Homo sapiens: one gene and its partners. The protein of the gene in region 4 interacts with the protein of the main gene of each other region in a pairwise test. Each region holds a gene or a part of one and is shown on either strand. Other genes may lie near its edges.

Region 1 (7,038 bases), on a different chromosome or scaffold from region 4:
AAAGCAGGAGAAAAAATGAAGAATGTTCCTCCTTTTCTCATCTAATTTAATAAACACTTTTGAATAAAGCTCAGACCCACCTAGAAAAACCCACAATCTATTCAGGTGAGATATGTGTAAAAAAAATTACAATAAAATGTGATACATAAAACTAATAAAACTTAGAGACCATTTGCCTAAAGGAATCATGAAAGGGTCACTGAGACACAGTTTTAAATAACATTGGACAATCACCAGTTGTAGAAAAGGGCATTCCAGGCAAAAGGGTGTGTAACTGTATGGAAGCAATAATAAGTACAACATTTTCAGGAAATAAGGAGAATTTGGTGTGACTAGGCCTAGATGCTTGTGGGGAGGCCAGGCTATAAAAAGATGTAAAGTCTAGGCTGTAGAGAGCTATGGAAGTCATGTAAAAGAGTTTGCAGTTTATTCTGCGGATGATGAAAAAATATTAGACATTGTAAGCAGGTGAGATTGTTAGAATATTTGCATTTATAATCAAAGATGTAGTAATATCATGGGTGAATGAGATGGGGAGAGAATAAAGGCAAGAAAACGTATTCAGAAACTACTTCAGAAGCCCAGGTGAGAGATAACATGGCCTTCAACTACAGGGTAGCAGAGGAAATGGGAGGAATAGACAGGTGAAAGGCAACTCAGAGGTTGGCTTGGGTGACTGAGTTGAAATGAGGTCAGAACAAGGGACAGGGAGTTTCTAGCGTGGGTATTTGGGATGTACATGGTTGCTACGTATTTCTGTCAACAAGGTGAGCTGAAAGTACCTGTAGAATATCTCCAAGGAGAACATACAAAGGATAACTAGAAACATGAGCCTGAATGTCAGGGTTGGGTGGAGCTAAGGGAATGATGGTGAGATTCATCAGCAAGCTAATGAAGACAGTGGCAGTGGAGGCGAATACAGACAGTGAAATTCCCTAGGGAGAGCTGTGATGTGGCTCAAAAGAGGGCGCAAAACAGTGCTCCAGGGAGCACAAACATTTAATGGATAAGAACAAGGTAATGAAGAAGCAAAAGGAACAGGGTTCAGAAAACCAGAAAAGCCAGTGCCCTGAATGTCTAGGGAGGGAGATTTCTAAAAGCAAATAGTCAATAACATCAGCAACTTTTCCTCTGGTGACAGTGTACTTATTTCTTTTAGTGAAGTAAACTCTGATTCCCCATCCTGGTGTACATATTTTTTTTTTTGAGACAGGGTCTCACTCTGTCACCCAGGCTAGAGTGCAGTGGTGCGATCATAGCTCACTGCAGCCTCAAACTCCTGGGCTCAAGCAATTCTTCCACTTCAGCCTCCCAAGTAGTTAGGACTACAGGTGCACACCACCACACATGACTAATTTTGTTTTATTTTTATTCTTGTTTTTTTGTAGAGATGGGGTCTTGCTATGTTTCCCAGGCTGGTCTCAAACCTCTAGCCTCAAGTGATCCTCCTGCCTTGGCCTGCCAAAATGCTGGGATTGCAAGCGTGCGCCACCGCACCTGGCCCTGACATATATACTTTAAGCAGTCAAAGTATTTGGTCCTTTTTCTTTCTCTTTCTCTGCCCCCTGAAACTCTTAAAAGGAAGTTAGGGATAGTTGTCTGGAACATCCCAGTTCCTTATCATAATGTTAAATGTGCACCAGAGCTGGGGGACATTTAAGAGCCAGACACCATGATCTAAAAGATGCTAAATAAAGGTATCTGCTGAAGGTAGGAAAGCACTGGCTTTGGTCTCATTAGTTACCTGTAAACCCGACTTGACAGGTGCACTCATAGGTATCCCGGCTGAGCATATGGCATGTGCCGCCATTCAGGCAAGGTCGAGACACAAAGCATGGATGAGATGTCGAGTACTGGCAGTCCTCTCCTGTAAACCCTGAGGCACATCGGCACGTGGCTTTCCCCAGCATGGCCTGGGCCACACAAGTCCCACCATTCTGGCAGCGGTTCTTCTCACAGGGGTCTCGATGTTGACAATATTCCCCCAAGAAGCCTTCTGGACATCTGTATGGAAAAGAGAAGAGTCCATGAAAACACCTGACTTCTTGTAAGTCCAAAAAATTACAGTAAAACAATACAGTCCAATCAAGAAAGCACGAGATTGTGAATCAACAGACCTACAAGGACCACCTATAAAACTGCTTCCCTTTAGAAGAAAGAGTCCTTAGAGAACTTAACCACATACTCCCATGTCCTTTTGAGTCCTGGCAGGTGACAGAGTATCAGGTGTATGGTCTAGCAGGGTCTGCCATGGCCAGTCAACATGACCCTTATTCAAACGCAAAATGCACCCCAGCTTTTTTTCATGTGTGTACAGGTTGGGATGGTGTAACAGCACCTTTTTTAGAGCACTGTTCGTACTTGTCTGCTTAAATTCATTAACTTTCTCATTTTGACTAAGCCATTTGATAGGATTAAGATGTCCACAATATAATGCATGAACTTGACCCTATTATCCCCTCCAATTTAAAATATGTAAGATATCATGTGCTTTTCCTCAATTAAGCATTGAGAAATAGTAAGTGCTTCTTTCTCTTATTTCCACTGAAACATCAATTGGATGATACCTAGTTTTCTGGGTTATGTTCAGGTGGCTGACATTACAACGGAAAAAGGGAAAGGAGGTACAGGAATGGGGAAGAGTTCAAAGGGATATTTAAAAATCTGTTAATATTTAAGTAGGCATTTTTAACCAAATAAAAAGACACAAAATATAATTAAAATAACATAAAATATCTAAGATACCATATAAACACCAAAGTCAAGGAAGGAATCAATTGAAGAATAACATTCTATGATATTTTCCACATTGAGGCACTGAGGAACCTTTTTACATGCCACCCCTTGATTCATAAGATGTACAACCATTTCAAACTGTGTGTATTATTTATGACAATTTTCTCTGAACAATATCAAAAAGGCATGGTAAGTCTCCATTTTCATAATGAAGTTGTTTAAATGGAATCTCTGAGAAGCATTTAAATTAAGAAACACAAACACTTTGATTCTAACTATAAATGCTGCTATATATTTGGCTGGTGCCCCAAATATGTGATTCAACTTATTCCTCGTTTTAGTTTTCAGGGACTAGAAAACTGAATCTAGTAGGCTGTTCCACCATTACCTCAAAGATTACACATTTAAACCAAACTCTAAATCCCCCTCTCAAAAACCAGCTTTTCTGTGCCCAAGCCTTGTTGTCCTGATTTTCCTAATCATTGTGACCTGAAACATTGGGGTCATGAGTGCTTTTGTCTTTGACAGTCATATCCAAGACCTTTCATTAACCATTGGTTGGCAAGGCTAGCTAGCAGGGGTCACAGTTACTGAGAAAAGAGGGAAGGCCAGATACTAGGGAACTAAGACAGAAAATGCCCAGAAGAATTGTGTAGTAGCTAAAATGGCTAAAGGAGAAAACAGGGTGGTGAATAGCTATAGTGGTAGTGAGGTAACTGGCCACAGCCTCTTCACCCCTCCCAGAGCTGCATAAGATAAGCATGGCAGAGCAAGGAGCGGCTAAGGCTCTGGGCATCTTCATGAGTAGGTGTAGCTACAGACCAACAGGCAGTGAAGAAAGTTCATAGCACTGAAACCAAAGATGGCATGCAGGTGACTGTGAGGAGTCTGTATCAAGAAGGTCAGAAGGTCTGGTTTGGAGTTCTGGTGCTGTGACCTTGGACAAGTTACTTATCTTCATTGACTATCCATTTTCTCACATTGTAAATAGTTAATAAGGTCACCTACATCATGAGATTATTCTAAGAACTGAACAAAATCAAGTATGTAAAAAACCTTATAAATGTTAAAAAGTTTTGCAAGTGGGCTGGGCACAGTGGCTCACACCTGTAATTCCAGCACTTTGGGAGGCTGAGGTGTGAGGACCATCTGAGGTCAGGAGTTTGAGAATAGCCCGGCCAACAAGGTGAAACCCTGGCTCTACTAAAAATACAAAAATTAGCCAGGGTGGTGGTGCACGCTTGTAATCCCAGCTACTCGGGAGGCTGAGGCATGAGAATTGCTTGAACCCGGGAGGCGGAGGTTGCAGTGAGCCGACGAGATTGTGCCACTACACTCCAGCCTGGGCAACAGAGTGAGATTCCATCTCAAAAAAAAAAGTTTTGCCAAGTGAAAACATCTTTTCTCTCTTCTTTGTGCTTATTGAGGAAAATACAATGCCCCATCCAAATCACAGCTTGATTTGAGAATAGTTTCTTGTGTTGGTTTTTTGAAGTGGAGGAGCAAAAAGTGCCAATGTAGCATAGCTAAAATTAACTCTGAGATATATTATTAAAAGCATTTGCAGCTTATTCAAGAAATGTGTTATGAATGTTAAAAACTGCAACACAATTCTCACTCACAGTGCAGCCCTCTGGGCATTATTAGATGACTCTTCATTCTCCCATATGGGAATTATGCACCTTCTAAATAATGGCAAATTTTTAAACGTGGGTGGGCTTTGCTCAGCTTTGCTCCTGAACTATTACACCACCCTAACACTATCATGTGGCATATGCTAAGAGAATGCAAAGTCATTTAAATGGTAGCATCATAAACATATAATGGAAATATAAGGTTCCCAGGAAAACAAAAATGAAGCAAAATGGAAGTTTCTAAAGCTAAACAGATGTATTTCTGAATTATTTGTTTCTACAGTTTAATTCACATTGTTGCTCCCTATCAAGTATGGAAAAATAAGTTTTAACCTAAGATATATTTAAGAAATCAGTAAAACCAGAGATTGACAAAGTACAGTTTGCAAGTCTAATTTGGACCACTGCCTGTTTTTGTTTGGCCTGTGAATAGTTTTTTACATTTTTAAATGATTAGAAAAAAAGAACAAAAGAAGGATATTTTCTGACATTTCAAAATTATATACAATTCAAATTTCAGTGTCCATAAATAGTCTTACTGGAACACAGCCATGCTCATTCATTTATAGATTGTCTATGGCTGATTTTCCACTACAACAACAGAGTCAAGTAGCTGTAATGAGACCACAAAGCCTGCAAAAATAATTACTCTCTGGCACTTTACAGAAAAAGTTTGCCAACTTCTGAGTAGAGAACATATGAAGGCTAATTCTATAAATACCATCCAATATGCTTATTAATAATGATCGGTTTCTGATAGGAAATCAACCTTATTAGTTTCCACAAAGAATATTAAACTTATAATCGTTCATTCACACAACAATTAGTAAATGCCTATTATGTGCCAGGCATTTTTCCAGTGCTAGAAAAATTCTTACACTCTTGGAGTTTACATTCTAATAGCGGAAGACGAAAACAAAATTACTAAGTAAAAGATGCACAATAGATGGAGTTAAGTGCTGTGAAAAAAAATTAAACAGGAAGGAATGGAGCTGGGGATGAGGGTGTGGGGTGAGCAAAGAGAAGTATCTCAGTTTAGAATAGGAAAATCAGAGAAGACCTTCACTGACAATACTTGAGTTGAGACCTAAATAAGGTGAGAGTAATCATGCAGGTATCTTAGGAAAACACATTCATGAGAAAGGGAACAGCAAATGCAAAGGCCATAACACAGAGAGCAGCCCTAGCGTGTTTGAGAAACAGCAAGAATATCTGGAGCAGCAGAAAATAGATGAGAGCTGTAACTGGGATGTGGATCAATTGGGGCCTTTAAGCCACTGTAAAGAAAGACTTAGGGTTTTCCTCTAAATGGGATAATACTTACATATGAGGTACAACAGACTTACTCTCCTAAAGCCCGTGTACAGAACCATATATTTGCTTTACGTGAAACTAGACCTACTGTATTAATAAAGTTTGATTTCTATTTAAAATGTTTTAGAGGGCTGGACATCAGCTTAGTTCTTTACTTTTACCTTAGAAGATATACAAGTCTCTTTTAACCCACACTTTCATGAGGTCCCATTTCCCTTTCCAAATTATTGTTTCACAGCTAACCTTCTATGACTGTAGCCTAATTTCAGATATTCCTCTTTCTTTTCCATCTACTTCTTACTTATCCCTCTGCAACAAAACTTTAATTCTAATTATTGTTTAGAAACTGTTTTCTAAAAACAATGACTTTCCTCTAGTCAAGTTCAGTGGTCTCATCTGAAACTTCATAAGGAAATTCTCTCTCCTATAGGGAGAATTGCTAACCACTCCATGTACCGTTTTAATCATTTTACCTTGGCTTCTATGCCTCCCTCTGTCTAACTCAAAACCCAGTGAAGTCTTAGTCTGGATTGCTGATTTCTCCTTCTTCCCCATCTATTATGGCCACCCTAATGTTTAAGTCTGGACTGCACTGCTCTTTCTCTCAAATGCATTTGTTACTGTTGTTGTTCACTTGGTTTTAAACAACTTCCTTCCTGTAACTGACTCCAAAATACACTGTTCCAGTCCCATATGTTCAGTTTTCTAGAAGTCATCTCTCTATCCTAATATGTGCTGCCACTATTTGAAACTAAACATTTGTAAAAGGAGATCATCTTCCCAAGAAACTTTAATTATTCAATTTTTCTAAGGCTTCCACACACAATTTAAAGTAACTTCATCTCTTTAAGTTGTATATAATTTATTACCACATTCTGACAAGACTTGTTAACTGAATTCCTATAATACTTATCATTCGTGTTCACAGTTTCCTTTTTGATACAAATTCTGATCATCTTAAAAGCCTCAGGCCAGACATCATCTTGTTGCTGGCTTTTCCCCCATTTCCAGCCATCCTTGGAATAACAGAACCTTCAGATTCAAGAAATTTAATTTCTATCCAATTAAGTAATCATTTCTAAAATATTTCTAAAAGATGATCACCAGCCTCTGCTTGAATACAAGCATGTAGCATGGTGCCGGATAAATCTTGAGAATTTAATAAATGCTTGGAGTTATTATTGTTCTGCTCTTAAGAGTACAGACTCTGGAACCAGACCACCTGGATTTCAATCCCAACTCCACCATTTACTCAATGTGTAGTCTTGGGCAAGGTACTAAACTTCCCTGTCGTAAAAGAGATGTAATAACAGTGCCTACTTCATAGGATTTTTAAATAAGGGTAAAGCACTTA
Region 2 (7,038 bases), about 110 Mb from region 4:
TCAAGGTCTGTTTATACAACTTTAAAGTAGAGCGCTTCGACTAGACCAAGTCAAAGGCCTAATATCTTATGAGTCTAAGAACTGAAGTTAACAAGATTATTTCCCTCTGCAGCCTTGATATGAATGAGAGTATCAACTTGAGTGAAATAAAAAAATTGAATTTGCTACACATTTATACATATCAGGTATAAATAATAACCAAAAGAGGCACAAACCATAGTCATTGTGACTACTCTCAATATTATTTGCAACAAATTACAGGACAAATATATCCTATTCTGAGTACTGCTACTCTCACCAACATTATACTTTTTACAGAAGTTACAATGAATCATCCACTGCATGGCAGGAGGAAAATCTCCATTCCCTTCTTGCCCTCCTTTTATCCTATCTGGGTCTTTCTTCTAGCTTGGCTTATGTACTCAGGTTCTATTTGGAGTGGTAATTTTACTATCCGTTTAAACATTTTATTTTTCTAGAATATCTGCTAAGTAGCTCCCTTCTTAAGAGAAATTATACAACATAGCAGACAAGCAATGGGAATAAAACAATTCGCTGGATCATCAGTGTAAGGTAGGAGGACTTTTTATGGGCACTTAGACTTGTACATACATATTATATGACACAACAACTTTAGAAAACTCTGTCCATTGAATACACATAAATGACTAGGAACTTGTAAGGCAGGAACTATAAACAAATGCTTCAGTTTGTAGCCCATAATAGTGAGCACTGTCACAAAATTTGATACTGGATAAAATATTTATTGCCTTCAGTTTAAATTGTTCATTCAGATATTTAATTATCCCTCCCAATTTCGTGGTATACTGAAGTTTCTTCAGTTCTTTGTTTTGTTTTGTTTTGTTTTGTTTTTAAAGGCAGGCTTAGAATTAGCCCTATGTTAAAGGCTTAATGGCAATTTGTAATGGCCAATGCCAAACTTTTGTTTCTTTAGTGTATTGAGTACACAAACACAAACATACAATAATGTCCTCCACAAAAATCTCTCACCTACCTAGATACACTCAGCCACCTCCACCCACACCTACACAGAGACACACCCTGCCTTCCCATTGCCATATACCTACATATGCAAATCGACACATATGCTAATTGTAGTACACGTACACAAGTACTCACATACTTAAAAGAAGAGGTGGAAAGATCATAGCAAAGATATATAATAAGCAATATGTCACTGACAGAAGATAGAGGGTGTGTTTCCCTGGATGAACTACTGGTGTTGCAGGCCATGAGCTGACTCCCCAAAAGTTAGCCAGAAGTGTGTGACTGCAAGAATGTTTATGCAACAGATGAGATAGGCTCCAGGAAGAGCTTGCAGGAGAGCAGGTTATTCCTCATGAGAACAACTTAAAGTTAACTCACTTGTCATATAGGAAAAGTCACCTATTTTATTAGAGAACTTGCTAACTGCATTTATGCGACAAAGTTGTATAGGGGATGCTCCCCAGATCCCTTACCTTGAGTTTCTCAAATCGATCATTCAGGGATGCGACCTGATGGTCTCGGTGACGACCCACCAGTTTGCATAAGGCACAGATCAATTGGTCATCAGATACACAGTACATGTTCACTTTCTCATTCTCATGGTCCAGGCAGGTGATCCCTCGAAGATGTGTGTCTGGCACTGGTTCCACCAGGCGGTGGCTGGTGAAAGGTTTCTTGTTGGGGTGCGTGGCCCGCAGGCAACGGTCACAGTAGGAGACCTCACAGGTGATGCATGTTTTTACTGCATCCCTTGGCGGGTCCTGCTCACAGAATTGGCAAGCAATTCGCTCGCTAGACATGGCAGTGGTGGGCCTGTAAGTCCTTTCCCGGCGGCTCTCACTAGGGGAATTGGGCCCACTGACTGAAGCCTTCTGGAAGCGATCAATAATGTTCTGCAGAGTCACATTCCTCTTGAGGCCATCCAGGCCCCGGTGGTTCAGCGAGATAACATACCTGCAGGTAGGACACTGGAAAGCAGTAATGGGTTCAATGGATTCACCAGAGCTGCAGCTTGATACCAAAATGCGATGGGCACAGCTGAAGCAGAGGCTGTGAGCACAAGGGAGCAGAAGGGGGTCTTCAAACAACTCTAGGCAGATTGGACAGGTCAATTCAGACTCCAGTGTTTCCATCTTTAGTGAAAATAGTCCTCCTGAGGCATTAAGAACCACGGAGGCTGGGCTTTCACCTGCAAGGAATACAAAGCAAGAGTCATTAGGCATTTCCAAAGGAAAATGGATATAACACAATTATACACTAACCAATGGGCGCGTTTACGTGCTGGATTCCCCAGAGATGCTTAAGCAATAGAAAAGCAATTTGGGAACTAATCAGGAAGACTTTCTTCCCCTTCAAACCTTGTTTTAGACAAATGCCTATGTTTATTTTCATGCACAAATAGATAAAACCAAATGGCCACCTCTGAATCCTGATAGACTGATTAACATTACCATTCCAGCTCACAATATTTGCATGGATCATTCTCTCACATATTCTCCACTGACATCTCTTTTCCTAGACTAAGATAAGGCTGAGACCCTGCAAAATTCCCAATCTCTATTCTCCAATATTGTTCTCTATTTCACTTCAAGGTAAACTGTAGGGCTGCTTCTATGTGACATCCAGTGTAAGGAAAACAATGCCATATTTTAAAGTAACTCTCTACTTCCTGAAATGATTCCATTCTGAAAGCCTGCATAAAAAAGAGAGAGCTTTAGAAAAATGTAGCCCTTGGTGCAGGATAATAAGTTTTTCCTCAGAGTGTGAACTTGAATTACTTCTTATTATCACACATGGAAATTTCCGTTCCATTCTATTCCTAGTAAACTGAGTTACTTGAGATAAAAGATGATAGTTTTCACTTTCATCTTCTTCCCTCACCTTCAGAAACCCCTTCAGTTCATCAAGCTGAATGGGGAATGATTTCAAACTTTTCAACCTACTCAGCAATAGTTGCTGATCAATAATAAAGTCATATTGCCTTGTGGCTTCAGTTTGGTTTCATTACTAAACACCTGCTGAACTAGCACAAGCCAGCTATGAAGCTCACCTCCCATGTGTCTTTTCATACTTTCTAAAACATAACAGGATGCAAATCAATATCTAGATAGAAATTAGCAAAGTTCCAGAAATTTTAAGATCTGGTAACCTTCAATTTAGTGAGCATCAGTGAGTAAAAGAGGTCACCCGGCCGGGCACAGTGGCTCACGCCTGTAATCCCAGCACTTTGGGAGGCCAAGGTGGGTGGATCACGAGGTTAGGAGGTCCAGACCTTCCTGGCCAATATGGTGAAACCCTGTCTCTACTAAAAATGCAAAAATTAGCTGGGCGTGGTGGCGCTTGCCTGTGGTCCCAGCTACTCGGGAGGCTGAACCAGAAGTATCGCTTGAACCTGGGAGGTGGAGGTTGCAGTAAGCCGAGATCATGCCACTGCACTCTTGCCTGGGTGACAGAGTGAGACTGCCAAAAAAAAAAAAAACAAACAAAACAAACAAAAAAAGCCACCCAACTGACAAGAAACCAACCTCTTGGTAACTCTATCTATTTTTCCACAGGCATTTCTGTGCTGAACACACAGGTACCTAATTCTTAATTGCCTAGAGTCTTCCATTAATTAAAATACACACACATAAATATTCTAAGTTGTCTTTAACTAAGGAAAAATATAAAACATATCTTACTGACTGAAAATGTTAATCCTATGTATAGGAAAGAAAAAGGGCATCTTTCTTGCTTTTTTTTTTAACAAGGTGTCCCTCTGTCATTCAGGGTGGAGTGCAGTGGTACAATCTTGGCTAACTGCAACGTCCACCTCCTGGGCTCAAGCGATCCTCCTGCTTCAGCCTCCTGGGCTCCGCCTCCTGGAACTCCAGGGGTATGCCACCAAGCCCAGCTAATTTTTGTTTATATTTTTTGTAGAGACGTGGTTTTGCCATGTTGCCCAGGCTGATCTTGAACTCCTGGGCTCAAGCAATCTGCCCACCACAGCCTCCCAAAGTGCTGGGATTACAGGAGTGAGCCACAGAGCCAAGCCCAAGAAAAGCATTGTTTGCTTTTGAGTAGCTTTTGTTTATTATCTTGTCATCATTGGAGACTCTCATCAGAGCTTGAAAATTTTGCTCTGCCATTGGTATTTGTTCAGATATTGTCACAGGATACATAAGTACTGAGTACAATTATACTTTATGCCTAAGTACAATAGATGTACACCTAAAAGCTGTTTCTAAATCAAACCTTTTAAATGCACTGAACTAACTACCTATTTAATGAAAATCTATATGAAATGAGGTTATAAAAGTGAAGAATCTTTTTGTAAATCAGTCACTCAGTTGGTTTAGTAGATTCAGATGTTTGTACAGCCAGTTTTTTTAAGTGAGACAAGGTATTTTTCTTTTAGAATTTACAGGTGCTTGAAAGTTGTTGGCCAGTATTTTGTAGCTTATAACATCTATCAACGTTCACCCATACAGATGAAAAAGTAAACAATTAAAATGTACATACATCATTGAATCTTAGAATTGGAAGAGACTTTTGAGAGATGAAGATTCCAACTTCCACTGACAGCAGGAATATTGCCTTAGAGAGCTCCATTTGATATATTACTCAGATTCTCAAACTCAACATGTCTATAAATGAACTTGTTGTGCTCCTCCTCACCTCCACAAAACAAAACAAACAAAAAACACCTGCTCCTCTTCTGATTTTCCCTGTCTGGTGAATATCACCATCCAAGCCTAGAAATCTAAGAGATCTCTCATCTACATGTTTTTATCACCTCAACCACTGGTGGCTTCCAGAACATTCTGTTTTATTTCACTTACATAGCTGTATTTCCAGCTAACTCTTCCTTCTCCTTGAGAGTATCAACTATTTTATATTTTCATTCACAGCACAAGTTTGTGCTTCACACAAACTGTATTCAATAATTGTTAATGAAGTATCACTTAAACTAGGAGTAAGAAGGGGTCTAGCATTCATTGAGCATCTCCTGTATTCTGAGTACTATGTTAAGCACTTTACACATTATTTCACTAATTCTTTCAGGAAACTTGTGAGGAAGTTACTATTACTGTATCCACCTTACAGTTAGGAAACTAGGGCTTAGAATCATTAAATAAATCAACCAAAAACATACATACCCAGAGCACAGGTCAGTATAATTCCAATGCCTGTGCTCTTTTCCCTTACCTTTATTTCAATCATCTCACCTCCTTCACTGAGGTTTATCTGGACCATTTACAAGACAGTTTTTTTTTTTTTTGAATTCTGGAAATCTTTACTTTGGTATATTTAACATAGTTTATAGAGTTTTTTTTTTTTAAACAGCATGTTTCTACGTCTATTTTTATCTCTCTCTGTCTCTCTTACTTTCTCTGAATCTGCCTATTTCATTCTGAGTTCCTTCCAGAATCATATCTCTGTCTTCTAGGCCCATCTCCACCTCACACTGCACTTCTATTACTATCTCTTCTAGAACTGTATGCCTGCATTCCTCAATGTCTGTGTTGGAAGCTACCTGGGTTGGTCACATGTATTGCTGAAAGCCATGTCTATGTATGCTGAAAACTATATAACAACAATTAGAGTACCACAGCTTTCCTAAGGCTTAAGAGGGTGCCATATAAATTGTCCTGTACAGAGGAAAAGCTCTTAAATTTTGTTTGGAAATCTAAAATTTATTTCCAAGTCAGTGTGACACTTGAACCTCATTATGAAATTAAGCTTGGGAAAGCACGCTATGGGTCAGGATTGCTTTGGGTAAGGTCAAAATAGGATTTATTAACCGGGGACTTCTGAACTTCCTAGAACTGTTTGCAGAATGTGTTTGTATGTCATATATGCATTTTTCCTGGGGAAAGGGTTGCCCATAGCTTTCAAAAGATTCTCAAGAGTCTTTGAAAGAAAAAAACCCAATCATTAGTACTCTAAAATAACCTACCTTAACTTATTTCAGCTCTGTAAAGAATATTTTAAGATAGTTACTGCCTCTTGCTTATTTTAGCTTTTCTAGACTGTTTCGAATCTGTTTGATTTTTAATTATCATATATTAACTGTTTTAGCCAATTTTCGGGTACTGAATACTTTTATCAACTTCTTCAGACGTGTTCAATCATCTCTAATTTATGAGGCTTTCTTGTTCTGGGTACTCCTAATATTTTAGAATCCTTTCAATTATCCCCCATTTCCCCTACCTTTCTGGTTATCTAAGCACCTGAACAATACCCTTTATGCGCATTGCCTCATTTACTTTTCACAACAACTCTCTAAAAGGTAGGTATTATCATTATTTAAAAAAAAAAAAAAGTAGGCTGGGCGTGGTGGCTCACGCCTATAATCCCAACACTTTGAGAGGTTGAGGCAGGCGGATCACAAGGTCAGGAGATCGAGACCATCCTGGCCAACATGGTGAAACCCCGTCTCTACTAAAATACAAAAAATTAGCAGGCGTAGTGGCGCATGCCTGTAGTCCCAGCTACTCGGGAGGCTAAGGCAGGGGAATTGCTTGAACCCGGGAGGCGGAGGTTGCTTGAGCCGAGATCGTGTCATTGCACTCCAGCCTGGCAACAGAGCGAGGCTCCGTCTCAAAAAAAAAAAAAGTAACTTGTTCAAGGTCACACTTGTTTCTAAGTGGCAAAACTAAGAATCAAACTTAGGATAAAACTTTAGAAATAAACCTATATATATCTATGGTCAACTGATTTTCAACAAGGGTTCCAAGACCATTCGATGGAGAAAGAATACTCTTTTCAACAAATGGTGCTTGGACAACTGGATATCCACATGCAAGAGGATGAAGTTGGAGTTCTACTTCATATCATTTATAAAAATTAACTCACAACAGATCAATGATCTAAATGTAAGAGCTGAAACTATAAAACTCTTGGAAGGAAAGATAGGCATAAATCTTTGTGAACTTAGGTTAGGCAGGCAACAGTTTCTCAGATGACACCAAAAGCATAAGCAACCAAAGAAAATATACATAAATGGTACTTTATCAAAATTTAAAATTTGAGTGCTGCAAAAAGCAC
Region 3 (7,038 bases), on a different chromosome or scaffold from region 4:
ACGCCTCCCAGACACAGCAGCCTTCACATCTGGACTGGTCCCCGCTCAGGATAAAGGCAGAGCACTCATCCATTAAATGTTCCCCAAATGCCCTCTCTCATCGCTAATCCCCAAAATCCAACAAGCACAGCCACCTGTCAAAAAACACCCCACCCACAGCAAACATCAGCCTGAAGTACAAGGCCACTAAAGAGATTACCACCCAAGGACAAGGCACTCAGAGAGCAGAGCTCAGAAGAGCAGACCGGACCCCTCCTGGGGCCTCTAGGAGCTCCGACACGGCCAAGCTCTTTTGGGGCTGTGGGGTTCCACAACACAACCATGTAGTTGGTACCAGCAGCACGCAAGTGAACTTGCTGGTTCACTAAAACATATCCCTATCCAATGCCTCACTGTAAACATACTGGATGCTGGCTTTCTCATCTGTGTCTTGCTCTCTTCCCCATCTCCTTGAACACCGACAATGAAGCATAATCTCCCCCGTTCTGGGCCCCCAAGTAAGCATTCTCCCCAGCATAGCACCTGGCAAGGAAGACTCACAGAAACCACTGGCTGAATGGAGTCAAGTCCACTCCTGGGCCTGAAGTGACACCACCGAGGACAGCAAAAGGATGACTCACCCTTTCACTAAAGGCCCCCAACTGCCAGGTAGTGGTAGCTTCCCCTCCTTTTTGTGCACTTCGGCCCATCCCCTGCTGCACTGATCTGACGGAACTAAGGAAGGCCCGAGACAGCTCTGCCGCTCCGAGAAGTTCAGCTTTCTTACAGCTACAGACAGCACCCCCAAAATGCCCATTTTTACACAGCTCTCGAACCCATTTCAGAGACAATTTTATGATAGAAATAATAATCTGCATTAATTTTCTAAGGCGAGGACTGGAGGAAAGAAAAGTCGGCAACAAAGCCTGCTTTCACTTAACACCCTGCCAGGGTGCTGACTTGAAGGCTGAACCCTGGCCCCCACCCCTCCCAGTCACTCCTTCCACCCAGATCTGCTCCAAATCGGAGCCTGTACAGTTAGCTACTGATACACAGCTGTCTCTGCAGCATCCACCCCCCAGGGGCCTTCACAAGCTGAGCCTCTAGAGGCTGCGCATGAAGCAGGGCAGTCTGGCATCGGCAAAGCAGCTAGCCCTGGACAGACAGAAGTCAGAGGGCGTCCTGGGGGAGTCAGAACCACAGGCCTCTCTGCCTGAGTGATGGCTTCAGGGCAGAGCCTGGGGGCTTTGTTCCCACTGGTTGGTAGGAAACAGAGGGATGGGCAGGGCCAGGCTGAGCAGACCTGCCTGCAGTCACTGAAGACTTTGAGAAGGACCAGCAAGTCACACCAGGATACAGGAGTCCCTGGTTCCCCTCCACAGCCTGCCAGTCTACCTACCCAACCTTTCCTTGGCTGACCTTGAACAAATTATGCAAGCCCCATTCCAGCTGAGGAATGAAAATCCGGCCCATACTGGAAGCACAGAGGGGAAGGATAGTGTATCTATCACCCAGCACAGTCTGCATAATACTTACGTAACCTCTGTCTTGGGGGTACACATCCTTCTTGGCTCATCAGCTGAATGGCAATGACAGCTGCTGTGCTCACCGTGCCCCCACCCCACCCTACCCCATACACCTACCCCCAAAATCACCTCTTTGAATTCAAAGCACCCCAGAGCCTGTCATGCATAAATTTATCCAAAATATGGAAAAAGTTACGTATATAAAGATGCTAAGCCCTGGCACATAATAGGCATTCAATATAAATGTGTTTGATGAGTGAATGAGCAATGAGCATCAAAGTATTATTTAGCAATGGGGAAAAAAGTAGAAACTTGGAATCTGACAATAGGAACTCATTACAATGCAACCAGGAAGTAAGAGCTCCCTCTGCAGGCTCACTGTTGCAGCATCACCAAGAGTGGGGGAGTTGGGGAGACCCTCAACTAGCAATGACCTCCACTCCCTGCCTGCTCCCACCTCGGCCTAAGGAGAGCTGATCTCAGGCTGAGGAGACCAAGTGCCATCAGAAGCACTGGTTGCTTCTGACCTCAATACCATGCATGGATTTTATTCTAAGGGCCACCAAGAGCCACTGTTGAGTGACTACCACATCTGTGTTTCAGAAGCTCACTTAACCAGCAGTCTGGCAAAAACGTAAATAATATCCAGTGTCAGTGAGGGTGTGGAAAACAGTCACTCTTGTTCACGCCAAGGGGGAGTACTACAGGTACACTCTTTTTGGAGAGCAATTAACCCAGCATTAACCCTAGTGGCAATTCCACTTCTAGGAACCTGCCCCACTGTAGCAACCAAGGCACTACTCAAAGATGTGTATATGAGGATGCTCACTGCAGCAGTATTTGTAACACAAAACCCAGAAGCAACCTAAAAGTCCATCAAAAGGAAAATGAATGAATAAAAATTAAGGTACTATACTTGCAAACTAAGGAGTACCATATGGTAATCAAAAAGAATAAGGTGGGTGGCTCATGCCTGTAATCCCAGCACTTTGGGAGGCTGAGGTGGGCGGATCACTTCAGGCCAGGACTTCCAGATCAACCTGGCCAACATGGCAAAACCCCGTCTCTACTAAAAATAAAAAAAAAATAAAAAAAAAAAATCACCCAGGTGTGATGGTGCACGCCTGTAATGCCAGCTACTTGAGAGGCTGAGGCACAAGCTTAAACCAGGAGGCAGAGGTTGCAGTGAGCCAAGATCATGCCACTGCACTCCAGCCTGGATGACAGAGCGAGACTGTCTCACAAAAAAAAAAAAAAAAAAAAAAGAATAAGGTGGATGTATGTGGTGGCATAGAAAGCTAGCTATGAAGCTACGATAGCCGTGCGCAGTGGCTCATGCCTGTAATCCCAGCACTTTGGGAGGCCGAGGTGGGCGGGTCACCTGAGGTCAGGAGTTCGAGACCACCCTGACCAACATGGAGAAACCCTGTCTCTATTAAAAATACAAAATAAATTAGCCAGGCGTGGTGGCGCATGCCTGTAATCCCAGCTACTCGGGAGGCTGGGGCAGAAGAATTGCCTCAACCTGGGAGGTGGAGGTTGTGGTGAGCTGAGATCGCGCCATTGTAATCCAGCCTGGGCAACAAGAGTAAAACTCCGTCTCGAAACAAAAAAAAAAAAAAGAAAGAAAGCTAGCTAGCTATGATACAGTTAAATGAAAAAAGTCAGAAAATTTGTAATTCCATGTAATTGGAGGAAAACCTTTTTACACATCTTTCTATGTTCATGAATGGATGGGAAAGCATGTGGAAGGATACAAGCCAATCTGCAAATTGGGGCTGGCTTAGATACGCTTCTGGAGAAGGAGGTTTAGGGAAGGAATGCACTTCAAATCGAATTTTCATTTTTTGTTCTGCTTCATTATTTAAGCTGTTTGTGTATACTAATAATTTGTTTAAGGATAAAGAATTTCAATACAAAAATTAGCCGGGCGTGGTGGTAAGTGCCTGTAATCCCAGCTACTTGGGAGGCTGAGGCATGAGAATCACTTGAACCCAAAGGCAAAGGCTGCAGTGAGCCAAGATCGTGCCACTGCACTCCAGCCTGGGTGACAGAGCGAGAGACTCCCTCTCCAAAAAAACAGCACTTTAAAAGCCAACCACTGTGCCTGAAATTGAGCTGTGTTGTGTCCCAAATCACGTTCCAAGGCTGCTGCAGTAGCAATGCCAGAAGGCTACCTAGAGTGTCCATACAGATTGCAAGAACAGATTTAAACTACACTGAGATGGAAGAGTTATCAGGCAAGGTCCGTCGGGGCACATTTCACTCCCAGGTGACCACTAGTGGCTTGGCCACCCTGCCAGAAATCATGAGCAGGAAAGAGCTCCCTAACTTCAGGGTGCACAAGAATCACCGGAGGCGCTTGTTCAAGAAGAGCCTGCCAGAAGAGATGGAACTCCTCCTGCCCTACCTCTCAGCCTGTGCCTAACAGGCAGGGCTGCCCCCAGGTGCCACTGAGAAGCAGCAGCTCAGGGCGGTTCCTGCACTAAGCACCTACCAGGCCCCCGCCTGGTAGAAATATGCTCTCTTCTCTGCAGAGGCTCCCTCAAAAGGATTCAGGCATGTGCCAGGCATGGTGGCTCACGCCTCTAATCCCAGCACTTTGGGAGGCTGAGGCAGGAGGATCGCCTGAATGCAGGAGTTCGAGACCAGCCTGGGCAATACAGTGAGACCCTGTCTCTTTTAAATAAAAAATAAAAAGAAATAAATAGTAATAATAGAAGGATTCAGGCAGATGAGCTTTGCACCCCTAGAGAGCCAACAACTACTGCAATGGTTGATACAGGGAGCAGGGTGGCCATGGGTCTCCAAGACTCAGCTAAAAACAGCTGGGAGGAAAGGCCTTAGGCCTAAGGAAGTTGTTACAAGGAATGAGTGAAACAGGCAGAACAGCAGAAGTATCTGGCATGGAGTAAGTGTTCAACAAATGGCAGTAATAACCATAATCCACTACACTGGATACTCTGTCTGCCCCTCCAGATCCATTCTCCTCCCTTCCACCCTGCTCTGTGCCCCCAGAACTGATCATTATGGACTGCTGTCCATGGGCTTATGATTGGGCTTAGCCTTTCAACGTGAGGTACTTGCAGAAGACGGGAGTTTAGGGAAGAATGAAGTCGGGGTACTCACCCCGAGTCTCCCTCCCTGCTAGGCTTCAGATGGGCAATGACTACCTTCCTCTACCCAAGGCCACAGCTCCTGCCAAGAAGCTCCCTCTCTTGTAGGCCTCAGGGTGTTAACAGACCAGACCTGACACCCCATCCACAGCTTTGCAAATGATGTCTTCATTAAACTCTCCTGGATTACCAAGTGTAAGTGTGCACCAGATCCCTGCAAAGACGCTAACCAACAGAGCAATCACAACCATCATCATCATCATTGCCATCATCTTATGATTCTGCCAAGGAAGAGAGTACTATGGAAAAGTCTCTGGCCCCGCTGTTTCACCAACACCATTCTAGGTGGTTTGTCAGGGCAGAACTAGGCCAGCCTATAGGAGGGGTATCAGACCAGCCAGTGATCACAGAAACAGCACCTCTTCCTAGCCCTGAGGACCAGGAAAAGCAACTTCCCCAGCAGAAGGCAACCCTAGCTCTAAAAGCCAACATGGGGGCGAACACAATCAGCAGCTCGCTCACACACATGCACGCATGCACACACACACACTCCAGCACTTTCTCTTTCTTGCCAGGAAGAAACAACCCAGGGGAACAGTTCCTGGTTCAAGCTCCAGGATGCTGGCAAAGGCTGATGGCCCTGTGTTCTGGTAGCAGGTCTGCGTACCCAATGCAGCTGTTCTCTCCCTCCATTCTTCCACAACAGTCTCGCAGTGGGCAGTAGAGCTTTCCAGGGGTAGCTTCTATTTTGAAACACCCTGGCAGCTGGGCCACCACCAGCACAGCTGAGTTCCATGCTGAGCTCCTGGGCTCAAGAGGTTGCTGACTCAGGGCAGCCTGCCCACCCACCTATCAAGGGGAGATGGCCTGCGCTGGCAGCCAGTACACTATGGTCTGGATCCCAGGCATACCTGGGGCTCCTACCTGACCTAAGGCACCTCAAGTTCCCTGGAGCCTCACTGCTTGGCTTGACCAGGTAGGGTTGAGACAGACAGTGCTTGGGCAGGAAGCCTCGGGAATCAAATAGACCTGAGTTCTAACCCACCCCACCACTTTCTAGGTATGTGACTTTGGGCAAGTCGCAACCTCTCTACTCCTTTTTCTTCAGCTCTAATATGGAGAAAGAGAGCCTGGATGGCGTCACTGTGAGGACTGAATTAGCTCGTTAATATACAACACTTGGTACAGTGGCTGGCGCTTGGTAAGCAGGGAATACACACAGTATTTTATCACAAGTTTTCATTTTGTATATTTATTATAATAATGGCTGCTAAGCATGTTCAAAAGGTCACCCTGAACCACAGGGTCCAGAGTCCTTCATGTCCACAATGAGGCATTGTTTAGCTGAACAGGTCCTGAAAGAATGCCTCCCACCAGATCCCAGGGAAAACGGACCCTTATAATAGACACTCAGCACCACTGTCCTTGCAAGAAATAGAGGTGACTCCATTGTCCACTGCCAGTTGGCCCGCACACAGCCATGCACAAGTTCACTCTGACTGGTGTGGAAAAATAATGTCTCCCATCTGAACACCAATTTTGACTTTCCAAAAGGCATTCACATCTGTTAGCACCTTGCAAGGGTCCCTTGGAGTGCAACTGCAATGTGAGAGCACCACCATTCAGACCAGGCCTTGAATCCCAACTCCACTCCTGCCAGGCTGTGTTACCTCACCTCTCTGTGCTCGAGTCTGCTGACCTGTGAAATGGAAACACACTATCTCTCTCCCAGGGTATAGGGTGGTGAACTCAACATCACAGAACATTCGTTGAGCCCCCAGAAAGGTGCTGAGCAAGCCCTCAATCAGCAATCACTGTAATGACGACAATCATACTTTTATAGCAGACAAACTCGGCCGGGCTCAGTGGCTCACACCTGCAATCCCCGCACTTTAGGAGGCCGAGGCGGGTGGATCAGGAGGTCAGGAGTTCAAGACCAACCTGGCCAAGATGGTGAAACCCCATCTCTACTAAAAAATACAAAAAAATTAGCCAGGCATGGTGGCAGGCGCCTGTAATCCCGGCTACTCGAGAGGGTGAGGCAGAGACTTGCTTGAACCCGAGAGGTAGAGATTGCAGGGAGCCGAGATTGCACCACTGCACTCCAGCCTGGGCAACAGAGTGAGACTCCATCTAAAAAAAAAAAAAAAAAAAAGAGAGAGAGAAACTGAGGCACAAGACAGTGACTTGACCTGTATGAGACCGACCCTATGGCTCACCAGACCTGTGTTATGGGCCTAAGCTACTCTCCAGTGCTCTTTCCAGCACAGTTCTGAGTAAAGAACTTAAAGTCCCACTCATCCCAAACCCCCTGAGTACGTGGTAAAATGGAGAAATGCGCCCAGACCCAGCTGAGGAGCCCACTGGTCAACTTTTCTCAGTGGCTACCACAGGACTCCATGGAAAACCCAAAGCCG
Region 4 (3,500 bases):
CTCTCCCAAGTGATGGCGTTGGGAAGTGGGGGTCTTTGGGAGTCATGAGGCCTCATGGATGGGATCAGTGCCCTTACAGAAAGGACTCCAGAGAGCACCCTGGCCTCATCCATCATCTGAGGACACACAGGGAGAAGGCGCCATCTAGAAGCCAGGAACTGGGTACTCACCAGAGACTGAATCTACCATACCTTGGTTTTCTGGGACCTCCAGCCTCCAGAGCTGAGACATGAGATCATACAAATGCTCTCAGAGAGGGTACAGTAAGTGCAGGTGCCCTGGGGTCCTCCAGCATTTATCAGGGAGCCCGGCTACACTTCTGCCAGCCTTGGTTTCTACCCCCCGCCTCTTCCCAGCTGTGACCCTGCCCTCTGTGCCCCAGGGGTGCTGGGGAGGAGGCAGCACTGCAGACCAGGAACGTGGGCCAGCCACGGGCAGAGCGTGGCCCCATCTGCGTCCCGTGGGCCCAGCGCCCATCTCCAGACCCCAGGCCGCCCTGTGGAGAGGTGCGTGGCCAGGCAGGAGGACCTCTGCGTCCTCTGTTTATTGTTTTGCAGCAGGAGGCCCAACATAGAACATACTCGCCAGTACTCGGCTGTGCAAAACAGGGGCTAGCGCTGAAGTACAAATGGGAAAACGTGATTCTTTTGTTTTAAATAAATACTTAGAACACGACTTGGCTCCTACAAGCATCTGGACTCTAGGTCTCAGTACTGGAGTGTCTCACCCATGGGCCCCACGCAGGGACGCCACGGTTCCCTCCCACCCCGTGATCAAGACACGGAATCGGCTGCCGATGGTTGGATCGCAATGCGCCCCTTTTCTAGAGCCTTCCCCGGCCATCTACAGGCAGGATGCGGCTGGGAAAAAGACAACTGGAATTTCTCGAAGGTTGATGGTCCGCACGGTTGAGGATTCTACGTGGTTCTCTTGGTTCCCCTGGTGTGTGTGTGTGTGTGGAGGAGGCCGCGGCCCTTAGATCACCTTCTTGAGCTCGTCGTACAGGACCAGCACGAAGGCGCCCCCCATGCCCCGCAGGACGTTGGACCACGCACCCTTGAAGAAGGCCTTGCCCCCCTCATCTCTGAAGATCTTCCTCCAACAGTCGACGGTGCCCGTGTACATGATGTCAGCTGCAACGACAGGGAGACAGTGAGGGCCTCGCCGCCAAGCTCTTCAAGACACGGACGCCACCTGCACCCACAAAGACGTTTCACAGAAATAACACCCCAGACGCCTGAGCCACAGTTCTGATTACAGGAGGGATACCTGAGGCTCCCCCAGCTCAAGCCCTCCTCCTAAGCCACTGTCTCAGGGAGGGCTGGACACAGGACTTCAGGCCCCGCCCTGGGTGTCCCCCATCTCCACCCCGGGGTCCATGCAGAGAAGGCAGGATCGAGGGTGTGGGTGCAACCAGAGGTTCTAGGAGGCGGGGATTTAGAAACTGCCGCCCGGACCATGAAACCCCAAAAAGATCAGAAGCCCATCGTTCAGGAAAATCCTTCCACACAGCCAGGTTACTTTCGGACACACTTGCTTGTCTCACACGCCCTGGAAGTGCCTCCTTTGATGGTTCCTGACCTCCCACGGGCCTAGGGCAAGGAGCTTGGTTCCCCTTCCCGGCAGCAAGGGTCCCCCGCCCCCCCGAGTACCTCCTTTGCGCCCGGACTGCATCATCATGCGCCGCCGCACCGTGTCGAAGGGGTAGGACACCACGCCGGCCACGGCCGTCACGGTCTGCGCGATCATCCAGCTCACCACGATGTGCGTGTTCTTGGGGTCGGGGAGCATGCCTGCGCGGGAACGGCACGTCACCGTCTCCAGCGCCTGCACGGCCACCCGAGACCAGGGTCGGCCCCCAGGGTGTGCTCACGGCCCCCTGAGGTGGTGCCGAGCTCTTCCGAGACCACCAGTGCCCCCTCCACGTGGCTGCTCAGTGCCAGCTGACGTTTACAACACGAGAGGTCGGGGCAGGGCCAGAGGGGAAAAGGCCGCCTGCCACCTACCGGAGCCCAGCAAGACAGTCCCAGAGGCCGGGGTTAGGCCTGTTTGGGGAAGGGAATAGGGCCCTGACCTTCTGAAGGGTCACCGTTACTATGGGAGTTACACTCTGTCCTCAAAATCCACATGCTGAAGTCCCACCCCCACCCCAGGACCTCAGGATGCAACTGTACTTGGATATAAGGTCTTGAAAGAGGTAAGACTAAAGGAGGCCAGTAGGGTGGGCCCTGATCCTACGACCCCAGTGTCCTTCTAAAAAGAGATGAGGACACAGACACACGGAGGGATGACCCTGTGAGGACACAGGGAGAAGACGGTGTCTACAAGCCAAAAAGAGAGGCCTCAGAAGGAACCAGCCCTGCCCACTCCTTGATGTCAGACTTCCAGCCTCCAGGACTCCGGGAGAATCAATGTCTGCTGTTTATAAGCCACCCAGTCTATAGTATTGTTTTAGGAGCCTGAAATGGACTAAGACACCTCATAAGAAGAGCAGATAAGGACACAGACACACACAGAGGGATGACCCTGTGAGGACACAGGGAGAAGACGGCGTCTACAAGCCCAGGAGAGAGGCCTCAGGAGGAACCAGCCCTGCCCCACACCTTGATCTCAGACTTCCAGACTCCAGGATTATGGAAGAATCAATGTCTGTTGTTTACAGTCCACCCACTCTATGGTATTCTGTGATAGCAGCCTCAAATGGACTAAGACATCTCATCAGAAGAGGACACGAGGACACAGACACACACAGAGGGACGACCCTGTGAGGACACAGGGAAGACGGAGTCTCCAAGCCCAGGAGAGAGGCCTCAGGAGGAACCAGCCCTGCCCACACCTGGATCTCAGACTTCCAGCCTCCAGGACTGTGGGAGAATCAATGTCTGTTGTTTCTAAGTCACCCAGTCTATGGTGTTCTGGGATGGCAGCCTGAAATGGACTAAGACATCTCATAACAAGAGATGAGGACACAGACACACACACAGGAAAAAGCCTGAGAAGACAGCATCTCCAAGCCCAGGAGAGAGGCCTCAGGAGGAACCAGCCCTGCCCATGCCTTGGTCTCAGACCTTCAGCCTGCAGGACTGTGGGAGAATCAATGTCTGCTGTTTACAATCCACCCAGTCTATGGTATTCTGTGATAGCAGCCTGAAATGGATTAAGACATCTCATAACAAGAGGAGATGAGGACACAGACACACACAGAGGGACGACCCCGTGAGGGCACAGGGAGAAGACGGCATCTACAAGCCTAGGAGAGAGGCCGCAGGAGGAACCAGCCCTGCCCACACCTGGATCTCAGACCTCCAGCCTCCAGGACTGTAGGAAAATCAATGTCTGTTGTTTATAGTCACCCAGTCTATGGTATTCTGTGATAGCAGCCTGAAATGGATTAAGACATCCCATAAGAAGAGAGGATGAGGACACAGACACACACAGAGGGATGATGCTGTGAGGGCACAGGGAGAAGACGGCGTCTCCAAGTCCAGGAGAGAGGCCGC

Evidence for each region.
Region 1: the proteins of SLC25A6 (region 4) and NOTCH2NLA interact in binary tests that used the Homo sapiens proteins (3 or more experiments, as listed by UniProt).
Region 2: the proteins of SLC25A6 (region 4) and MID2 interact in binary tests that used the Homo sapiens proteins (3 or more experiments, as listed by UniProt).
Region 3: the proteins of SLC25A6 (region 4) and VDAC1 interact in binary tests that used the Homo sapiens proteins (3 or more experiments, as listed by UniProt).

Annotation. Positions count from the first base shown.
Region 1 is NC_000001.11:146,163,007-146,170,044, forward strand, and holds part of NOTCH2NLA (notch homolog 2 N-terminal-like protein A), read right to left. Parts: intron 2,005-7,038; coding exon 1,745-2,004; intron 1-1,744.
Region 2 is NC_000023.11:107,835,829-107,842,866, reverse strand, and holds part of MID2 (probable E3 ubiquitin-protein ligase MID2), read right to left. Parts: intron 2,198-7,038; coding exon 1,482-2,197; intron 1-1,481. UniProt on the Homo sapiens protein: E3 ubiquitin ligase that plays a role in microtubule stabilization. Mediates the 'Lys-48'-linked polyubiquitination of LRRK2 to drive its localization to microtubules and its proteasomal degradation in neurons.
Region 3 is NC_000005.10:133,994,960-134,001,997, forward strand, and holds part of VDAC1 (non-selective voltage-gated ion channel VDAC1), read right to left. Parts: intron 1-7,038. UniProt on the Homo sapiens protein: Non-selective voltage-gated ion channel that mediates the transport of anions and cations through the mitochondrion outer membrane and plasma membrane.
Region 4 is NC_000023.11:1,385,627-1,389,126, forward strand, and holds the end of SLC25A6 (ADP/ATP translocase 3), read right to left. Parts: intron 1,794-3,500; coding exon 1,653-1,793; intron 1,134-1,652; coding exon 976-1,133; 3' UTR 526-975; downstream 1-525. UniProt on the Homo sapiens protein: ADP:ATP antiporter that mediates import of ADP into the mitochondrial matrix for ATP synthesis, and export of ATP out to fuel the cell.